Homo sapiens: one gene and its partners. The protein of the gene in region 1 interacts with the protein of each later gene in a pairwise test. Each region holds a gene or a part of one and is shown on either strand. Other genes may lie near its edges.

Evidence for each region. The genes of interacting proteins can lie anywhere in the genome.
Region 2: the proteins of VAPB (region 1) and SDCBP interact in binary tests that used the Homo sapiens proteins (3 or more experiments, as listed by UniProt).
Region 3: the proteins of VAPB (region 1) and AP2B1 interact in binary tests that used the Homo sapiens proteins (3 or more experiments, as listed by UniProt).
Region 4: the proteins of VAPB (region 1) and ARL16 interact in binary tests that used the Homo sapiens proteins (3 or more experiments, as listed by UniProt).

Annotation. Positions count from the first base shown.
Region 1 is NC_000020.11:58,395,618-58,399,382, reverse strand, and holds part of VAPB (vesicle-associated membrane protein-associated protein B/C), read right to left. Parts: intron 1-3,765. UniProt on the Homo sapiens protein: Endoplasmic reticulum (ER)-anchored protein that mediates the formation of contact sites between the ER and endosomes via interaction with FFAT motif-containing proteins such as STARD3 or WDR44.
Region 2 is NC_000008.11:58,580,310-58,583,358, reverse strand, and holds the end of SDCBP (syntenin-1), read right to left. Parts: intron 2,843-3,049; coding exon 2,751-2,842; intron 1,674-2,750; coding exon 1,619-1,673; 3' UTR 501-1,618; downstream 1-500. UniProt on the Homo sapiens protein: Multifunctional adapter protein involved in diverse array of functions including trafficking of transmembrane proteins, neuro and immunomodulation, exosome biogenesis, and tumorigenesis.
Region 3 is NC_000017.11:35,625,322-35,628,821, reverse strand, and holds part of AP2B1 (AP-2 complex subunit beta), read right to left. Parts: intron 2,202-3,500; coding exon 1,980-2,201; intron 1,438-1,979; coding exon 1,317-1,437; intron 1,192-1,316; coding exon 1,096-1,191; intron 1-1,095. UniProt on the Homo sapiens protein: Component of the adaptor protein complex 2 (AP-2). Adaptor protein complexes function in protein transport via transport vesicles in different membrane traffic pathways.
Region 4 is NC_000017.11:81,680,998-81,685,085, reverse strand, and holds ARL16 (ADP-ribosylation factor-like protein 16), read left to right. Parts: upstream 1-1,288; 5' UTR 1,289-1,332; coding exon 1,333-1,393; exon of another isoform or gene 1,394-1,491; coding exon 1,492-1,550; intron 1,551-1,959; coding exon 1,960-2,073; intron 2,074-2,410; exon of another isoform or gene 2,411-2,843; coding exon of another isoform or gene 2,844-2,936; coding exon 2,937-3,052; intron 3,053-3,206; coding exon 3,207-3,378; 3' UTR 3,379-3,899; downstream 3,900-4,088. Other genes in the region: HGS (hepatocyte growth factor-regulated tyrosine kinase substrate), read right to left, coding at 983-1,019. UniProt on the Homo sapiens protein: May suppress the RNA sensing activity of RIGI in a GTP-dependent.

The DNA of each region.
Region 1 (3,765 bases):
GTAAGAGGTGCCAACGAGACAATTACAAGACTACAATTATAATAAGGCACTTTTTCTTTCTTTTTCTCTCTTTTTTTTTTTTGAGACGGAGTTTTGCTCTTGTTGCCCAGGCTGGAGTACAATGGCACGATCTCGGCTCACTGCAACCTCCACCTCCCCAGCTGAAGCGGTTCTCCTGCCTCAGCCTCCCCAGTACCTGGATTACAGGCATGCACCACCACGCCCGGCTAACTTTTGTATTTTTAGTAGAGATGGGGTTTCACTATGTTGGTCACGCTGGTCTCGAACTCCTGACCTCAGGTGATCCACCCACCTCAGACTCCCAAAGTGCTGGGATTACAGGTGTGAGCCACTGTGCCCAGCCTTTTCCTTTATTTTTCTATCCCATTTCTCTTTCAAGCCTCTTTCTCTAGTCTCACTCCTCCTCTCATCTTCCTAACATAATAAATAAGAAAGCCAAGGGCACACTCCCACTTATCTTTTAAGGGAAGAAACACAGCCAGCATGACGACAAAAAAAAAAAAAGCCATAGCCTTTGCAATCAGACAGATCTTGATTCAAATCCCAGCTCCAACCCTCAGTCAGGTTCATAACTTGGGTTAATAACTTCAGGATCATAACTGTACCCACTTCCTAGGCTTGCATTAAGAATTAAATAAATGAACGCTTAGAAAAATGGCAAGCGCACAGTGTAAGCTCGCCAAGTCACATATCTCAAATGCCATCTTCCCTGTGAGATCGAACACCCAAAGCAGAATTAACACAGCTTTTTCTAAGCTCTCAATAAGGACAGGCCATAAATATCTTGTCCCCATTTTCCCTCGTCTCCCAATACCTAGAGGCTGGAAACTTTAAGGGCTAGGCCTTCCTCCCAGGTCCCCAGTGCAACCTAGTGCCTGGCCCACAGGAAGCTTTCAGTATGTGGTAACTGAACCAAATCTCAATCAGAGTCACGCTCAATTCCCCCAGAAGGAGTCATCTGTCTATAAAGAAAACCTCAAAGGATCTGCAAAGGGCAGAAACCCAAAACAGCTCTAATTTGGACAATCATCTCTTATGTACAGACAATCCCCGATTGGTTTGACTTGCGATTTTTCAATTTTACAATGGTGTGAAGCCATCATAATTTTGACATATTTTGAATTTTGATCTCTTCCCAGGCTAGTAATATGCAGTACATGAGATATTCAATACTTTATCATACAATAGGCTTTGTGCTAGATGACTTTGTGCAACTGGAGGCTAACTTAAGGGTTCTGAGTATGTTTAAGGTAGACAAGGCTATGATGTTGGGTAGGTTAAGCTGTATCTAATATGTTTTCAACTTATAATATTTTCAACTGACAATGGGTTTCTGAGGATGTAACTCCGCTGTAAGGTGAGGAACATCTGTAAGAGATCATTATATCCATGCATGTCTCTAAATCCTTTCTGATCCAATTCGTATGCCTGGCGTATCATCGTCTTGGAAAATGACGACTTCCCAAAGTGTATCTCATACAGAATAAAACAGCACTTTTTAATCACCTTAAGTTTACCTCTTTGAACAATTGAGACAAGTCTCTAGTTTATTAACTCACCCTTATTTGTTTCTCTGTCCAAGGCAATGGCTGGTCAGGAGCATGCAGAACTAAAGGTTTTGTAGCAACACTTACAAAGTTTAAGGTGGCACTGCTAAAGATCATTTATTTTAGACATTCCTATCTTAATAAGTGCCCTTTACAACTTCTTGAATTCCCACTCTACAAACCTGCAAGCCTATGAAATCTCTACCACACACAAGCTTTGCCCTGCCTTCCAAAGACTGGATAGCAGAAGGACAAATTACCCACAAGTTAATGTGTTTTGTTTTTTTTTTTTTTTGAGACAGAGTTTTGCTCTTGTTGCCCAGGCTGGAGTGCGATGGCGGGATCTCGGCTCACCGCAACCTCCGTCTTCCAGGTTCAAGCGATTCTCCTGCCTCAGCCTCCCAAGTAGCTGGGATTACAGGCATGCGCTACCATGCCCGGCTAATTTTGTATTTTTAGTAGAGATGGGGTTTCTCCATGTTGGTCAGGCTGGTCTCGAACTCCTGACCTCAGTTGATCTGCCTGCCTCAGCCTCCCAACGTGCTGGGATTACAGGCATGAGCCACCATGCCCGGCCGAATGCTTTCTAAATATATAGAATCAAGAAACCATCAGAATCTGATATAAAAGTGAATATTCACAAGAGAAATCAAACATTCTTTGGAGTCATCTGTCTGAACTTTTTCAAAAGTAGGGCAAGAAATCCCTCCTAAAAAATTCAGAGAATAACTCTTAATGAATTGATGTTCTTAAGAAATTGTCCTGACAGCTATTAATACTTCATTAATGGTTTTAAATTCTCTGCCTCCCTCTCTCAAGAACAAACCCCTTTATGAGTTAACTCTAATGAGCTGATACTGGTATGAGGGAAAGTACAAGGCTTTGCCTGTGCCACCATTTACTAGTGCAGCCTCATCCAGCAGAAAGTTACCTAGCCACTGACTAAGTCATCTCATACGATTGTTACACAGATTAAACAGTAACATAAATATGGCAAAGCACCTCTTACCACAGTTCCTAAACTGTGTGGCCTATCTTCTGGAATTAAAGCATTTATCCTCTAGAAATGTTTGTTCCTTCTTTACCTTTCTTTACCCTTATATTGCAAAATGTATGTCAGCCACTGCTTTTAACTCCAGACCCGACCCAACGGGGTGTTGGGGGGCACATTTCACCACTCACACATATGACCACTCCCAGATCCTTAGGTTCCATTTTCAATTCCCCTCCATTCTCTGAGCACCCTTCAGCCTTTCAAGACAACTCAAGGAACTTAGAGCTCTAAACCACATCACAAGGAAGTAATTTAAATCTAGGTAAATGGTCTAGGGGTACATCCCATTGTCTTAAAGTACAAGCTAAAAGATGAAAAACACTGCAGTCTCAATCTACCCCTAAAACATTTATTGCCCTAGTCTCCACTTCCCAGATGGGCAAAGGCTGAAGGAGCCTACTGAAATGCCAACAATGTAGTAATTGAAACACATTATAGGTATCGGCCAATGTGCCCTACACAACACGAGGTGGGCATGCACACACACACCCCCCAAAAGCGTGAAGACATCACTTGACACAGGTGAAAATACTAACATGCTAACCAAAGGTCAATATTAGCCCTTCTGAAAGGATGAAGGAAAACTCCAAGAAAGCATTTCTGTAGCTTTACAGTTCTATGCAATAAAAAAATGTTATTAAAAGAAAGTATTCCAAGGTTTTCTCACGGGACTATGCCATTTTCTCAACTGCTTCCCAACCCCCAAACCCCCATGCAAGGGGGGTTTGTCTTTGTCTACAAAGACAGTGTTTGTAGACATCAACAGCTTCTGTTAAAAGGATGCATTTAACAGTTTGAAAAATATTCTAGAGATAGTATTTTACCACATTCAGTTATTTTGTTTGTTTTTTAAATAATCCTCAAGTGACTGTCAAGTTTAGTAACTTTGTTTCCATACCAAAGCTCTTTAAACAACTCTTCCTTGTGTAAAGCCAGCTGCCCACATCTGTCAGGTAAGAACTTCAAAGAACGCACATACCCACTGAGCAAGGCCAAAGCAATCCTGGATATGCTATGCTGATAACAGCCTGAAAGGGGCCTAAAATGATAGAAAAAAACAAGGATGCCAATCTGGAAACCATAATGCAACTTTGTTTTTAACACAATCCTCGGTGCAAAATAACGCAAAAGGCTTTTGTTTTA
Region 2 (3,049 bases), on another chromosome or scaffold:
ATATTTTTTTCTCTTCTAAATTTCAAACAAGGTAAGCTGTATAGCAGTAGCAGATTTCCTTTTATATTCAACCTCTGAACCATGGTAAGTGTGTGACTTATTATTTTTTCTATACTCTTTAAAAACATTGTTGTATCTTGCAGGTAGTATGACATAGGAGAAAAAACTTGAGTCAGACCACACTAATAGAATTTCCAAAGTCAGTTTCAGTGTTATTAAATATTACCTGGTCTCAGGTATTGCTAGGGACAATCAGTAGCCTCAATGAGTTCCTGCTGCATGGCAGGTGTGAACCAGCTCTTCTTTTGGCCCTGGTAATCTGGGGTTCCCAGCTGGAAGCAATTTTCCTGACACTCAGTCTCAGCACTGAGAGCTGTTCTTAGGGCCCCTGAATGTCAGCTTGTTCTGGGAGATGATGTCTCCCACAGCTGAAAGTGAATTTCACCTGCCTGTCTTCTAGATCATGCATAAGTTTGGTGAAAGCAAATGATGCAGTAATAGACAGACTAAAATGTAACTTTATTTATACATATTTAATTAGAATAGACATAAACCAAAAAGAAGAAAAAAATCAGGATAAAGTGTCAACTATCATTTTGTTTGCAAGGAGGAGTCAGGAAAAGGAACAAGTTATCAGAAAAATATTCTAAGACCATCCCAAAGTAGCTAGGTTACATAATCTTAAGAGTCAAATGCCAAAATTAAGTATTATACCACTTAATCCACAAATGAACAAAAGGGGAGTCAAAAGTTTATCCTGTTTAGTGTAATAACTTTTACATCACATATAGTGATTCACTTCTTAAAAGTGGCACTGGCAACTTTTAGAAGAAAGAAGTTTCCATTATGTGTTGACTAAAAAATCTCAAAAACAACTAAGCAGCTATGCTATAGCTCAGTAAGTACCATTAAACTGTTCTGGGCTAGTGTACATTTCAGGTTAATAGAGAACTACATTTTGGGTTTTTAGAAAGGCAGCAATAATTATATTTTGGCTTTTAGTCTAGATGCTTAACATAGTTAAGGCGACAGTTCAAGCATATTAAGTGAAGGTAGTTAAAATTTAAGAATCATCACAATCTCTTGAAACCTACATACACTGTTTAATGCTTACATGGAATGAAACCAGTGTTCTTAATTGGCATTTTACACACACACACACAGAATTTAAAAAAAAAATCAAAGGCAATCATTCTAAATGTACTATGATAGCATGTTAAAGATGCAAGTATGCTATAGAACTAAAGTAATATGAACAGCACTACTCATTACCTAGGAGAAAGGTGACTGGTTTTCACACAAAGCTAAGCCTGTAACAGTCATCCTAATCACAATGGCTTATAAAAGCATCAGGTTTCCAGTAGAGAAACTATTCTAGGAAAGTCAGTAAATCTCTTGAAAGTTTCACATCTGTAAAACCAGGATAAGGCTACAACTATTTTGAAATCTGAACAAGGTATCAGATGAAAGAGTAAGATTCCCAGCCATAATGTAAGATAGAAAGGTCCTCATGCAGCATATGCTCGCTGGCTCCGGGAAGGCTTCACGTGCATAATACAGAAGTTGCCAAAGAAGGAAACTGGAGACGTTCAGCTACATTTCCATGGTGCCGTGAATTTTAAACCTCAGGAATGGTGTGGTCCATTAGGCTTTTCATAATGCTTGGTGCCATCCTACAAGAGAGGTACTTTTATTATATACCGAGATTCTGGTTTTTGTTTTTCAAAATGCTACATTAATCCAAGAAAATTCCCAATTCCAATTTAGCACCTGTTAGCATCAAATATGAATGGAGAGAAGGGAAAGATCTTTTAAATGAGTCCAGAAGCATCTCTGGTAATCTAGTTGTTGACAGACACTCAGTGGGAAAGACTATCTGTATTTGGCTAGAGAAGTTAGGATACAAATGAATTCCTGTGCATTAAACATGGTGATTTTTAAAAAACAGAAAGAAAATGACAAGGCTGTGATGAGTTGGGGTAGAGGGATCCATCAGTGATTTAAGAAAAGAGAACCCTAGAAAAATTAGTCATGACAATAACTCCTTTTTACCCCCTCCAAGGGTAGCTAGGTGCATTCTATCCAGAAGCCAACACAAAAATTTCATTACAATGGTTATGTTTATGAATCTTTTAAATCTCATTTTCACATGCATAATAGAGCTTCTGAAAGGATTCCAAGCTGGCTTGACAAAAACAGCTATGGTAGATGCTAGGATATGAAAAGCTCTATAGAAGGAACCTTGTTGCCTCTTTTCAGTTCTGATCACTTGGCTTTCTAATCCTCAGTTCCTGAGCACAGATAGCACCAACACACCACACTTGTCTATCTGCCTCTTGAGATTCTGGAGAGAAGGGAAACTTACTCTTAGCATTCCACCAGCAAGAATTCTCCATTACGAACCACCACAACTATATTTATACTGAGCAGAGGGGTGGTAGGCAGTGCAACTGCAGTCAATTGCACTGCAAATTGAAAGCTGAAAGCATGCCCACTTCTCCTTGCATACCTTTTTTCTACCAGGCATTATAAAAACTGAGGAAAGTATATGTGAATTTTATTCCGTACTTGGGAAGTTGTAAGAGCTCATCCTTACCAACCCTCTGATTTAAATAACTTACTTCAAATTTCTAGATAAAACACCAGTATCCATTCCTTGGGTAAAAGAACCAAAGGGCTGAGAATTAAAGTATAGTGCTTATATTAAGTCACATGACCATATGCATTAAGTTGAGGAATTGTTTACTTACCGCTTAATAATATGTTCAAAGATAAAAGCAGGCATGATTGTAATAGTAACTACAGTCCCAGATGTTGACAGTATGTCTGCAATTTGAGAGTCCTGATAAAAACACATATTAAAAATTAATTCCACAGAGGCTTTATTTAATAAATACAAAACTATGCCAGTCTTGGTAAAGAAATACAAAATATATGTCTTGGTATTTCTAATTTTTTCTAGTATTTCTTACCAAGTTTAATTGTACACTATTTTACAGCTAGTAACCAAATTGCTTAAGTAAACTGAGTTGAATATTTTAACCAAAAA
Region 3 (3,500 bases), on another chromosome or scaffold:
AAAGGCATATTATTTCAATCTACCATGATAATGGATATAGGAACAAAAACCTTCATTATGTAACTACACTGGAAAACAGGAGACGGAAGTGGGAATGGTGGGTGTATGAAGTAAACTTCTTATAGCAGATAGTTAACAGAAAAAGTCTATGATAGGTAAATTAATAAATAATAGCATAAGAATATTATTGTTGTTCTTTTTTTGAGACAGCGTCTTGCTCTGTCACCCAGAGTGAAAAGGTTTCAGGTTGGAGTGCAGTGGCACAATAACAGCTTACTACAGTCTCAGCCTCCCAGACTCAAGCAATCTTCCTGCCTCAGCCTTCCAAGTAGCTGGGACTACAGGTGTGTGCCACCACACCCAGCTAACTTAAAAAAGTTTTTGTAGAAACAGAGCCTTACTATGTTGCCTAGGGTGGTCTCAAACTGCTGGGCTCAAGCAGTCCTCTCACCTTGGCCTCCCAAAGTGCTGGGATTACAGGTGTGAGCCACTGCACCCAGCCAAGAATATTATTTAGAGATATGGCAGCCCAGTCATGTCTCCAAATCCATGGGAGATTGGTTCCTGGGCCCCTGTGGATACCAAAATCCATGGATGCTTAAGTGCCTTACATAAAATGGTATAGTATTTGCATTTATACACATTCTCTTGTATACTTTAAACCATCTCTAGATTATTTATAATACCTAATGCAATGTAAATACTATGTAAATAATTGTTATATTTTTAAGGAATATAGACAAAAAAAGGTCTGTACATGTTCAGTACAGACAAAACCATCCTTTTTCTTTTCCCCTGAATATTTTTGATCCGCAGTTAGCTGAATCCACGGATGTGGAACTCATGGATATGGAGGACCTATTTTAATCAAAAGAATAACTAAAAGCAAAATCAGAGTTAAAAATATTCCCTCTGAGAAGAAAGTCTAGGTAGGGAAGGGAGGAACCAGAGACAGCTGCTTTCCATTAAAAATTCTTTAACATTGAAACTGTGTGCTTTATTATTTTGATAAACTTAAAAATTATTTTAAAGAAAAAAGTGAAGAGAACTCTCAGAATCCCCAATACATGATCCTAACTACCATCAGACACTTGCCTCCACCTTGATGGCACACCGTCCAATGGCCCGCACAGCTTTTCGAACAAAGTCAACATCCACCTCTGTAGCATATTCTTTCAGTTCTGCCAGAACCTGTTAAACCCAGGAAGTGGTTAATCATTAAGGATTCTCAAATAGCAATCTCACAGCCTAGCTTCTTTAAAGGCCAGACCTTAAGAGCTAAATCATCATCAACTTGAGTCTGCATAAAGTCTGACCTGAGCAATGTTGGCTTGAGATGCCAAACGAATCATGATGTCCAACTTCTCTAGTTTAACATAGATGGGATCATTGTACTTCACAAAGAAGACTTTGATTTCCTGCTTCAAGATTTCAGGCCTAGGGTACACAGAAACAGAAGAAAGGAAGGTGAAGGCATATACTGATATACCCTTCTGAGACTGTATTAATACCTAATCTGTGCCTCTCTGCTCTCCTCTCGCTCCACTCAGGCAAAAAAAAAAAAAAAAAAAAAAAAGCATAAACTTCCTCTATACGCCTCTATTCTTATCAGTTCCACTTGGCAGATTATTTTTATCCTTTTTAAGCATCAGGGCACATGTTGCCATGAAGAACTGCTAGAACAACAATCTGGCTCTAAACTACAGCCTGAACCATATCAACCAGGCACTAGACAGTATATCAGAAAGAGACCCTTCAGAAAACAAACTGGATTGTGGAGCAACGCATGGCATTTATTATAGAAACACTGTAATATCAACTGTTAGCCTCCTGGTGCTAGGCAAGCAAGTTTTTCTGCCATATAACATTTTCATTTCCATATATTAAAAAGAGATTAACACTAGCCTAATTAACATTGACATTATTAAGCTTAATGCAAAATTACAAACACTTTAATCAACACTTCGCTATTTCCCAACCTTTTCTGGACAATTAAGTTGATGTTCCTCAGGGCGACATACTGCACTTCTGGCTCCCCAGACAGCAAAGTGACAAGTGGAGGGGCTAACTTCTTCAGCAGCATATTGTAGTAGTCAGAATCCTTAGGTAACAATTCTAGAAACTTCATTAGGACTTTTACCGCTGAAAGCACCACTGCTGAGTTGGCATGGGATAGCCGGGGAGTTACCCGCTCACAGATGCTGAGGGTGGAGAATGAAAATTAATATCATGAATTATAATTTATTTGCTGAATTCATTCTATAAGGTAATATGTCAGAGTCTAATGGCCAAGTATCAAAAAATTAAAGAATTAGTTAGAAAAGTCAAAGCTCCATGCTTAGGTAAAATTGGGATCCAACAATGCAGAAGCCTCATTCTCAGCAAACTACAGGCAGAGCAGGGACATAAGAAGACTTCAGGAAACCAGTAATAAGGGATGTTCAAACTGGAAAGAACCTAGCAATACCCAAGACACTTGAGCTCACACCATTTACCTTCTTGTTTTATAGTCCTCTTTGTCTCCCCATATTATGTTAAGGCTCCCTGCCTCTCAGCCCATTTCTACTCAACCTATAGGAAGTCAAATTAAGCATTCTGAGAGTTATTTCATAGGAAGAGACAGCAAACGCAGTTGTGGCTGAAGATTTCATTGTAAGATACAGCAGGAGGCAGGCTGGTAGGGAAAACAATCCAACCTCCTCTCTTAAGGATAATGAGAATAAGGGACTCTCTGAAAAGGGTTTGTTTTTTAAATAGCAGGACACCACTACTATATTTTCCTGTCTCCCCCCTCTCCTAGCCCCTGCCACCTACACTTACATGCCTCATAAAATGGTTGATATTTAATTATCTGTTGAGGGTTCTTTAGAAATTAATCCAATTTTGGTAGCTTGGGCAACACAAGTAGCTAACTTACTGTATTAAAGAAAGAAGATAAATAGGCTGTACTTCTCTCTTCCTCCTATTCCTGACTTCCTTTGGGTCTTTATATGAATGCCACCTTCTCAGTGAGGTCTTCCCTGGCCATCCTTTAAAAAGAAAATACAACCCCTCACCCCCAAATGCCCAGCATTTCTTAGATTTCTTCTCTACTTTACTTTCTTGTTAGTACTTATCACCATCTCACATATTACATATTACACTATCTATACATATTATATATTATATTATCTATACATATTATATATATTCCTACCCCCATCCTTCAGAATAAGTGATCCCAGAGGGCCATGACTTTGTTCACTGCTGTATCCTCAGAGCCTGGAACACTGCCTGGCACACAGTATGCACTTAATAAATATTTGCTAAGTGAGTGAATGAATGAATGTGATGTCAATGGCCAACAGAAGAAAATAAAATTCTCAGTAAAGTTATTTCCAGACTATATTTGTACTTTCAGTGATGGAAAGAAACTATCAGAGTGAGCTTTAGTTCAGTCCAGAGGGACAATTTCCCAGATAAGTGAAGATCACTTACATTCTAGTAGCTTGGAAATCAGC
Region 4 (4,088 bases), on another chromosome or scaffold:
GGACTCGCCAGCATACCTGTCATCATACCACATCACTGCTGTCTCCAACAACTGGCCCCTCTGGGGGGGCAGCTCCAGCTCTGCCCACATCGCCTTTCCCGGATACAGAAACGATCTAACAAGCCAAGCCACGTCCACTTTCTATACTGATTCAGTAGTTAACCTCTGGATTCATCCCTGAAGCACTGAACTACCTGTGTGGCTGAGATACTCAGTCTGCTTGCTGGTTCCCTTGGCAAGGAAGGTGTCTCACTTGAAGTCTCCTTGAAAACCCTACTTGACAAAAAGGCAAGCTTGGGCAGCCCATTCGACCACCCAAGCTCCTACCCCCAAACATTAGACGCATTTTCCACGTGCTGCTGGGCACGTGCACATCAACATTCGTTTCCCTCCCAAAACGCGTCAATTCCAGGAGGCTCAGATAGGATCAGCTTTCACCTCCAAAAACGTGAGAAAACGCCTTCCTAAACCATTAGGCACTTCCCGAAGCCAGTGTGGGAACAAAAGGTGGGTCTGGGACCCGCAGCCCCCAAGAGAGCTCGAAGGTCCCAGAGAGAACACTGCCGGCTCCACCCTTCGAGGCCCAGTGTTTTGGGTCAGAAGCCCAAGTGCGAGCCTAACATCCGACTGAGTCACCCACTTTCATGACTCAGGCCTTGTGGCCCACTCGGCCGGGTGCTCGTCGGTCAAGAGGAAATCGGCCGAATGCCCGGGCCCGCGGAGGAGCGAGGTCGCCGAGCGCCCCTGGCGCCCTGCGCGGACCCTCGCAGAGCCCCATTTGCCAACGCCCGACGGACGCCGACCCCACGGCCGCGCCGAGGGTCCAGGATCGGCGGCTCCGAACCCGGGAGGACAGCGGGCCGGGGAGAGGCGGGCAGGGCGGCCGGTCCGCGCCCCTCGGGCCCTCGGGGCCGCGCTGACTCAGCGCCGGGCGGAGGCTGCGGGCTGACCAAGGCCGAGCCGTCGGGTGGGGACGCGTTACCTAGGAGACGCTCGAAGGTGCCGCTGCCTCGCCCCATGGCGACCTCCAGCCCAAACCCGACGCCGCGGGCGCTCCCCTGCTACGAGCTGGCGCGCCCCCCGACTTCCGCTTCCGCCTTTTCCCTCCAGTGCGCGCACGCGCACGTCACCGCGCCGGCCCTAGAGCCGCGAGGAGGCGGGGTCTTCCGCTCTCCCGCTAACGCTGCGCGCTAATTGGACGCGCCCTTGGAACAATGAGCCCTAAGAACCAATGAGAAGTCCGAAGGTGAGAACTATCCAATGAGAGTGGCCGGTGGGCGGGCCTTGAGCCGCGGCGCCGAGCTACGGGTGCCGGGTGGAGCGAAGCACGGAATGTGTCTCCTGCTGGGGGCCACGGGCGTCGGGAAGACGCTGCTGGTGAAACGGCTGCAGGATATCCTTCCGCGCGGGGACGGGACCGGGGCGCGGGGGGCACCCGGAGTGGGGCGGGGACTCACCCTTTAGCTGCTCGGGTCCTTGACCGCTTCGCACAGGTGAGCTCCCGGGATGGGAAAGGCGACCTGGGGGAGCCGCCCCCGACACGGCCCACGGTAGGTGTCCGCCCCCGCGGGTGGAGTTGCGGGGGGTCAGTTCTGCGCTTGGCGAAGAGCTCCGGGCTCCTCTAAGTGCACGCCGAGGCGCAGCGGGTCAGGTCGTGACTTAAGGCCAGCCTTCGGGAGCGGGGGACGGCCCGAGCTGAGGATAATTGGCGCGGGATGAGGGGGCCTGCCGCCCTCCACGGGCACTTCCTCTCCCCTCGCAACGGCTTCCTGTGGCTGGTCGCCCCCACAGCGAGTCCAGCTACTGATGGGCGTCGGTCCCTGCTCGCCGTTCCTGCGTTAGGGAGAATGGGTCTGCGGGGTTCAGGCCACCGTGTAAGGTGTGGGCACGGTGCTCTTCAGGAGTTCACAACGGGACAGCGGTTGTATTGTTCTTTTTGCATCGTGGTTTTTCCTATAGGTGGGCACCAATCTTACTGACATCGTGGCACAGAGAAAGATCACCATCCGGGAGCTTGGGGGGTGCATGGGCCCCATCTGGTCCAGTTACTATGGAAACTGCCGTTCTCTCCTGGTGGGTTGTAATCCTATATGGGCTTCCTTTAGGGAAGTGTGTCTACATTTCTGTGACGTCCAGTCCCCAACCTTGCTGTGTGTAGAAAGGGGTTTGGGTTATTTAGTGACTATACTACTCATGGAAATAGGTCTTAGCTAGTGTTGCTTCCTGCTGGGCACCCTGTCTGGTTTCTGGTGCTTGCGCTCCCAGGCCCCCGGTAGGAGCTCACAGAGGGCTTGCTGAGGGCAGGGCTGCTGCTCCGCAGAGAACAGACTTGGCCCTCTGTGTCACTCCCCGGTACGTCTGTGTTTATGTTGGACTTATACGTACCTCTGGTTGGTCTCATCTTGATAAGGCCTGTGCCGCGGATACCAGTATGGAGAACTGATGGCCACATGAGGACAGAGACGAGTGACACCAGGTCGTCTTCATAAAACTCGATTCCCTCTGCTTCTGCTTGTTCCCAAAGCTTTGTTTAAAGCTACTTTGGGCCGGGCGCGGTGGCTTACTCCTGTAATCCCAGCACTTTGGGAAGCTGAGGTGGGCGAATCACGAGGTCAGGAGATGGAGACCATCCTGACTAACATGGTGAAACCCCGTCTCTACTAAAAGTACAAAAAATTAGCCAGGCGTGGTGGCGGGTGTCTGTAGTCCCAGTTACTTGGGAGGCTGAGGCAGGAGAATCACTTGAACCCTGAACCCTGGAGGCGGAGTTTCAGTGAGCCGAGATCGTGCCACTGCACTCGGAGCGAGACTTCGTCTCAAAAAATAAATTAATTAATTAAAAAATGCAGTTTTGCTCTCCCAGTGCCAGGTCTGTGAGGCCCAGGGGAGGAAGTTTGGCAGCGGGGCATTGCTGCTGTCTTTTTCTTTTTCCCCAGTTTGTGATGGACGCCTCTGACCCCACCCAGCTCTCTGCATCCTGTGTGCAGCTCTTAGGTCTCCTTTCTGCAGAACAACTTGCAGAAGCATCGGTGCTGATACTCTTCAATAAAATGTACGCGTCCCTGAGCTGAGAGGGAGCACAGCGGGGGCGGGGGCTCCCTCGGGTTACAGCCGGAAGCATGGCTCGGTAGGGAGGTGGTGCAGCTGGGGGTCCGGGGCAGGTGTGTGGCTGCCACTGCTCTGATGGGGCACCTCTTTCTCTCCAGCGACCTACCCTGTTACATGTCCACGGAGGAGATGAAGTCATTAATCAGGCTTCCAGACATCATTGCTTGTGCCAAGCAGAACATCACCACGGCAGAAATCAGCGCCCGTGAAGGCACTGGCTTAGCAGGGGTGCTGGCCTGGCTCCAGGCCACCCACAGAGCCAACGATTGACTGCACGGCAGAGGCGCAGCTGGCCTGAGCTGGGGAGAGGTGGCAGAGGGCAGTATGGCTTTGCTGCCAATAGTTTCTTCTCACAGGGGCAGAATAACCCAAAGTAACCCTACATGATGGGGCTCTGTGCTGAGATGCAATGATGTGTAAACTGAGGCATGTGGAGATGGAAGTTGACATCTGGCCTCTGAAAAAAGTGTCCCCAGGGGCTAGGCATGGTGGCTCACACCTGTAATCCCAGCACTTTGAGAGGCCGAGGCGGGTGTATCACCTGAGGTCGGGAGTTCGAGACTAGCCTGACCAACATGGAGAAACCCTGTCTCTACTAAAAATACAAAATTAGCTGGGTGTGCTGGTGCATGCCTGTAATCTCAGCTACTTGGGAGGCTGAGACAGGAGAATCCCTTGAACCTGGGAGGTGGAGGTTGCAGTGAGTCGAGATCATGCCATTGCACTGCACCTGGGCAACAAGAGTGAAACTCCGTCTTAAAAAATATAAGAAATAAAAAAATAAAAACCTGTCCCCAGACTGGATGAGCAGGGCCTGCAGATGGCCGAGTGTTCTGTATCTTAGAGTGGTGCTATTGGGGTTGGCTCACCTCCTTCCTGGAGACCTGCTGGACTGCCCCCAAGGCGTATGGACTGCACAGTGCCACTGAAACCTGGCCTCTTGCTGTAGCACAACCTCCAACCTGCTGAGCCGCTGGTAC